2 linked regions of the Homo sapiens genome follow. Changing the gene in region 1 together with any one later gene gives a genetic interaction. Each region holds a gene or a part of one and is shown in the gene's direction. Other genes may lie near its edges.

Region 1 (3,074 bases):
AAATGTTTAAAAAGAAAAGAATGTTATTTTGTAGCTGATGTTTGGCCTTAAAATTGTATCTGTGCTAGCTGGCTTATTGGTCAGTAAATAAGAAATGGTGTAATACGCTGAGAACTTAATGGAATTGTTAATATTGCTCACAGTGTCTCTCTTAATCTGTTTTCAGATTCTCACGGCTGTGTGAGCACAGGGAAATCAAAGCACTCTAGGCTACACTCCAGAGTAGCTTGTTCTCCAACTCGGATTTGATGGGGAACAAGAGAGTGTAGTCAGGCTCTGGGGTTAAAAAGACCTTGATTCAAGTCTCAGCTCTGCCCCTTTACTTTCAGAAGTCCTTTCACCTCCTGGAGCCTCCCTTCCTCCTTCAGTTTCCCCATCTCTAAAACGAGGGTGATGATAGTATTGGCTGCATAGCATTGTTCTAAGGCTCCTCTGTGGGAAAATCCCTTGGTACAGTGCCTGGCACATGGTAAGTCAGTCCCCAACTTTGGAAAAGGGTGATGAAGTGACAGTCTTTCCCCTTTTATTGCAGAGCCCTCATCCTGCAAGTCTCTCGGAAACACCTCCCTGAGTGGCCCCTCCATCCACTGCCCCTCTGCTGCAGTATGTATCGGCATCCTCCCAGGCCTGGGTGCCTACTCTGGGAGCAGCGACTCCGAGTCCAGCTCAGACAGCGAAGGCACCATCAATGCCACCGGAAAGATTGTCTCCTCCATCTTCCGAACCAACACCTTCCTCGAGGCCCCCTAGTTTCTCCGTCCCTACACAGGGAGCTCCTCCCCAAGGGTAGATCGGACCGTTCATGCTGCCTATAGGCATTATGTCCCTCAAAAAAAAACTCCTTTGCCTGCATCCTGTGTACAACATGACATTTTTAACCAATCCAATCTAAAAATGTGCCAGAATCCACCTGTGGCCCGAATCGTGTTTGGTTCCTCTTTCTACTCCACTGCAGATGACCAAACCTGTCCCGCTGCCACTTTCCTCACTGATATTGGGAGGAGGGCAAGGCCCAGCCGAAGTTCCACTAAAAATGCCCCAGGAGAATAGGCACCGGCTGGCTTGCCAAAGGGTTTGGGTTTTATTGCTTTCTGTTTTTTCTTTTCCCGACAGCACAAAGAAGTAAGGGCAGTTATTGGACAGGTGTTATTTAAACATTCTATTGTAAATGAATGTGTTGTTTGGTTCTACTGCATTGTGGAGCATGCGGGGGAAGAGAACTGACCCAGGTAGTGAAATGGAGCCCTTCCCTGGAACTAACCAGTCCTTGATGTTGTGTGACTAAGTAAAGATGATAAACCCCATCTGCTGGGGGTGTCACTTCACACTCGGCATGCATTGTGAAAGCTTTCCATACCCTTGGCCATTCCCTCTCTCCTCTCTCTCCAACCCCATTTATGCAGGAAGGGACTGCTAACAAGAACGCTTCCATCTCAAACCTTTTCTCTGCCTGGGAAATTATTTTATGTTTGTTTTTGAAATAAAGGATTTAGTTTAAGATTCTAAATTTTAGAGAAACAAACGTAGGCCTTGTTTACTAATAGCCAGACATCAGAACTGCAGGTAGGTATGTTAATGAGATGACTTATTTCTGGCAGCTCCTGGAATCCTAATATTGTAAATGAGTGGGACACACTTGCATATTGTGACCATTCTATTGAGGCCCTTCTCTGTTTAATGCATATTATACTTGTGCTTTTAACTGTGGAATCTATTTCTAACCTAAAGGTGCTGCCCTAGTACTTTTCTTTGCTGCCTCTGCTGCTCTTTTTCCTTTCCAAACAGCAACTCTGAGGCCATGAGCAGCCAAAAACTAGAGGTACTGCTCCACCTCGTCTCATAAAGGGAAACGGGCTCATCCCTTGGATTCTGGAGGAGGGAGAGGGAGATGGTGTGGAGGCCTCGAGGACAGAGATAGACATGAGCTTTGACAACAATCTGTAGGCTCTCCTGCTTTAGAATAAGCATGTACCATTCTTTATCCATTCCCCTTATTCCTACATCAATTGTTTTTACTTTCTTGGGTGTGAGACTGAGTGAGACACACACAAAATGTGTTGACACTGTGATGCCGGCAGGCAGAGCAGCTACTGACTTTGAACATGGGCAGAGAGGCCCCTGGATCTCATCCAGCCCACTCCTTTTCCCCTTCCAGTACAGTGACACTCTGGTGCCCATTGGCAGATGGCGACTTCCCTGCACCCATAACTGATGCTTTGTGAATTCTTCCTCCTTTTCAGAACTACTCTGTGCTAATTGTTCTGCCAGTATGGGCGCATCAGCTCCATCCTGACAAACAAGACATTTAGGTAAAACTTTGTAGGCACCTTCTGCTTCTCTGCTTCATTGTTCCTGTGATAGTCCTGTTGTTATTACAGCATGTACCCAAAACAGCCTCACATTGTTACAGGAGGCAGGCCAGGACATCAAAGTCATCATCTTTATGTGGCATGACTCTTAAGAGGCCATTACTGTATCTCATGGCCTCTTGATGTGGAAAGAAGTTGACAGAGGGTTGCAGGGTTTAAAAACATCCATTAACATGAAAGCTAATAAACCTGTCAGAGAACAAGATCTTGTTTTTCCTCTACTGAATATTGTGCTTCCACCTCTCCCCATGTCTCTCAGCTAGATTGTGTTGAGAAGGTTGAGTGAGACTCTTCAGACTGTGACTTACCTTCTGGTGTCTCAGGAGAGACTGAGAATCACTGGTGATCATTGCATCATATTCCATTGTCCCCATCAGCACAGAGCTCTGGAACTGAAACAGAGCTTCTGTAGCAACCACAGCTAACAAAGCAGCGTCTGATCTGACCAACAGAGGAAGCAGCCTTGGAAAGTATCTAGTGTAGACCTTGAAGTTCAAACCCAAAGGAGAATAGAATAAACAGGGCTGGAAGGAAACACTGCTTTAAACTGTAAAGTGTAGTACTCCTGCCTTAATAATTGGGATTTTATGGTAATTACGGGACAAAAACAAAGTTTGGCATGGGTTTCTTTAAGCTCGCTTACTTTGTTCTGAGTGGTAGGATTCTTACAATTCTCCAGCCATGTGAGGGAGAAAGCTAATAGGA
Region 2 (4,030 bases), on another chromosome or scaffold:
TAATCCCAGCAGTTTGGGAGGCCAAGGCAGATGGATCATTTGAGGCCAGTAGTTCAAGATCAGCCTGGGCAACATGGCGAAAACCCATCTCTGCTAAAAATGCAACAATTAGCTGGGTGTGGTGGCGCATGCCTGTAATCCCAGCTTCTTGGGAGGCGCAAGAATTGCTTGAACCCTGGAGGTGGAGGTTGCAGTGAGCTGAAATCGCACCACTGCCCTCCAGCCTGTTCAACAGAGCAAGAGTCTGTCTCAAAAACAAAAAAACAAAAATCATAGCATTCAACTACCTGGAAATTACCCTCTCCCTTCAGTTGATGTTAGGCTCTACTTAGACCAATTTAGTCAGTGTGCTTAAGAAAGATGTGGAGAGGGCAGGACACGGTGCCTCACACCTGGGATCCCTGCATTTTGGGAAGCCAAGGTAGGCAGATCACTTGAGTTCAGGAGTTCAAGGAGGCATGAGAACTGGGCAACATGGTGAAACTTCGTCTCTACAAAAATTGCAAAAATTAGCCAGGTGTAGTGGCGCATGCCTGTAGTCCCAGCTACTTAGGAGGCTGAGGTGAGAGGATCACTTCAGCCCAGAGGGTTGAGGCTGCATTGACCCAGTATCACACCACTGCACTCCAGCCTAGGTGACAGAGTGAGACACTGTACCAAAAAAAAAAAAAAAAAAAAAGATGTGGCAAAATTAACATGCACAGTGAGAAGAAGGGTAACACTGATTACTGATTAAGGCAGTACTCCTCTGGGTTTTTGTCTTAAGTGGATGTGATAGTGGCATCACTTACACGACCAGCTGAAGGAAGAATAGATTTGGAGGAGAAATTGAAAGTTCTGTTTTGGATCTGTGTTTTGCATTCTGACTGGAAATGACAAATACAAGTCTACAGCTCATTGGAGGTGTCAGAACTAAAACTGTATAACTGTATTAGAATTGTTTATTTGGCTGTGTGTCTTACCTAGACAGACCTTGAGGACAGACACTGTTGTCTTTGTAACCTCAGTGCTCTGAAGTGTATCCTCAAATACTTGTGAAATGAGTAAGTAAAGGCAAAAGTAAAAATGAAGTCACTGGCTGGGTGCAGTGGCTCACGCCTGTAATCCCAGCACTTTGGGAGGCTGAGGCGGGCGGATCACGAGGTCAGGAGATCGAGACCATCCTGGCTAACATGGTGAAACCCCATCTCAACTAAAAATACAAAAAATTAGCCGGGCGTGGTGGTGGGCGCCTGTAGTCCCAGCTACTCAGGAGGCTGAGGAAGAAGAATGGCGTGAACCTGGGAGGTGGAGCTTGCAGTGAGCTGAGATCGTGCCGCTGTACTCCAGCCTGGGCAACAGAGCGAGACTCTGTCTCAAAAAAAAAAAGAATGAAGTCACTTAGGCAAAATGTAGAAGATACATACTCTATGCTTTCACTGAAAGTCTAAGCACCTGAATGTGACTTACAAGTAGGGTGACCATAATTTCTGATTTGCTGAGAATAGCCTGGTTTATATCTGTTGTCCCTACCTAAGTATTAATATTGCCTGGTTTCACTCTCAGTAAAGTCTCCATTTGTACAATAAATTTATATTGTCATTCTTTTTAGAAGGCCCTTCCAGATCTAGCATCTTCCTATATCTTTATCATCACTGCCCTATCTTAGACTCCATTTGCCAGCCAGGTGGACATACCTTCATTTCTCATATGCACTCTTAACTTCAAGGTTTTTTTTGCCAAGGTACTGCCTACCTCACTTAGACATCACTTCCTTAGGAACACTTCTCCTGACCCCCCAATGGCTGAGTTAAGTCACCCTCTTACATGTTCCCAGTACACCTTGTATTTAACCTGTCATAGCAAAGATGACTAAGTGCCTTGTTCCCTCACTAAATATCTCTGTAAAGGAACCCAAAAAAACACCTTTTGTCCTCTTTAAGCCATAAATTTATATTAATAATATCCAAATCCATGTTGAACCAGTATTTTTGAAGATTGACCTTCAGGATAAACTAATAGCACAATCTTCATGCCCTTTCATTCATAAGTAACTGAAAAGGTTGACTTTTGTACCAGGAACCCAACGAAGAAAACTTGTATCTTGTCAGGGTTGGTAACCTGGCTGCCATTGACTGAGACCAAAATATCCCAACAGTTTGTCCTCAGCTGCTAAGCTGCTGTGGTTAGAATCAAACGTAGAGTTTCTGGCCTGGTGCGGTGGCTCATGCCTGTAATCCCAACACTTTGACAGTCCTAGGTGGGAAGATTGCTTGGGCTCAGGAGTTCGAGACTAAACTGGGTGACTTAGTGAGAGTTCAACTCTACAAAAAAATCAAAAAATTAGCTGGGCATGATAGCACACGCCTGTGGTCCCAGCTACTTGGGAGGCTGAGGTAGGAGAATCACTTGAGCTCAGACAGTTGAGGCTGTAGTGACCGTGATTGTGCCACTTTACTCCAGCCTGGGCAACAGAGTGAGACCTCGTCTGGAAAAAAAAAAAAAAAGGTAAAGAGACAACCTACGGAATGGGAGAAAATATTCACGACCCCTACATCAGATAAGTGGACAAGGGCCTGAAAAGACATTGCTCAAAAGAAGACATGCAAGTAGCATGGGAGGCCGAGGCGGGTGGATCACCTGAGGTCAGGAGTTCGAGACCAGCCGGGCCAACCTGGTGAAACCCTGTCTCTACTAAAAAAACAAAAATTAGCTGGGCGTGGTGGCGGGCGCTTGTATTCCCAGCTACTCAGGAGGCTGAGGCAGGAGAATCACTTGAACCCAGGAGGCGGAGGTTGCAGTGAGCCAAGATCACACCATTGCCCTCCAGCCTGGGCAACAGCAAGACTCTGTCTCAAAAAAAAAAAAAAAAGAAAAACAAAAGAAAAAGACATGCAAATAGCTAACTGGTATGTGAAAAAAATGTTCAACATCACTAATCATCAGGGAAATGTGAATTAAAACTACCATGAGATATCACCTCACACCTGTCAGAATGATTATTATCAAAAAGCGAGATAAGCATTGGCAAGGATGTGGAGAAAAACCCTGTACACTGTCAGTGGGAATGTAAATTAGTACAGCCATTTTGGAAAATAGTATGGAGGTTCCTTAAAAATTTTTGAATGGAACTACCATATGATCCAATAATCCACTTCTGGGTATATATCCAAAGGAAATGATATCTGCATGTCAAGGTATCTGTACTCCCATATCCATTGCAGCATTATTCACCATAGCCAAGACATGGAAACAGCCTACATGTATGCCAATGGATGAATGAATAAAGAAAATGTGAGATATAGATACACACACACACACACACACAGACACACACACAATGGAATACTGTTCAGCCTTAAAAAATAAGGAAATCCTGTCATTTGCAGCAACATAGATGGACCTGGAGGACATTATGCTAAGTGAAATAAGCCAGGCACAGAAAAACAAATACTGCTTAATCTCACTTATGTGTGGCATCTAAAAAAGTCAAGCTTGTAGAAGTAGCAGAATGGTGGTTACCAGGGGATGAGAGAGAAAGAATTGGAAGATTTTGGCCAAAGGATACAAAATTTCAGTTAGACAGCAGGAATAAGTGCAGGAGATCTATTATACTATATGGTGACTATAGTTAAAAATATATACTTGAGGCCAGGCACTGTGGCTCACACCTGTAATCCCAGCACTTTGGGAGGCTGAGGCAGGTGGGTCATCTGAGGTCAGGGGTTTGAGACCAGCCTGGCCCACATGGTGAAACCCCATCTCTACTAAAAATACAAAAATTAGCCAGGCGTGGTGGTGCATGCCTGTAATCCCAACTACTCAGGAGGCTGAGGCATGAGAATCACTTGAACCCGGGAGGCAGAGGTTGCAGTGAGCCAAGATTGCATCACTGCACTCCAGCCTGGGCAACAGAGCAAGACCCTGTCTCAAAAACAAAAACAAACAAACAAACAAAAATATATATATGCTTGAAAATTGCTAAGAGAGTAGATTTTAGTTGTTCTTACCACACAAAAAAATAAGTATTTGCGGTAATGGGTATATATTT

Evidence for each region.
Region 2: changes in PSME3IP1 (region 1) and ACACA together harm fitness less than expected from each alone (positive genetic interaction), as found in Homo sapiens cells (one large-scale study listed by BioGRID).

Annotation. Positions count from the first base shown.
Region 1 is NC_000016.10:57,151,966-57,155,039, reverse strand, and holds the end of PSME3IP1 (PSME3-interacting protein), read left to right. Parts: intron 1-532; coding exon 533-750; 3' UTR 751-2,574; downstream 2,575-3,074. UniProt on the Homo sapiens protein: Promotes the association of the proteasome activator complex subunit PSME3 with the 20S proteasome and regulates its activity.
Region 2 is NC_000017.11:37,400,018-37,404,047, reverse strand, and holds part of ACACA (acetyl-CoA carboxylase 1), read left to right. Parts: intron 1-4,030. UniProt on the Homo sapiens protein: Cytosolic enzyme that catalyzes the carboxylation of acetyl-CoA to malonyl-CoA, the first and rate-limiting step of de novo fatty acid biosynthesis.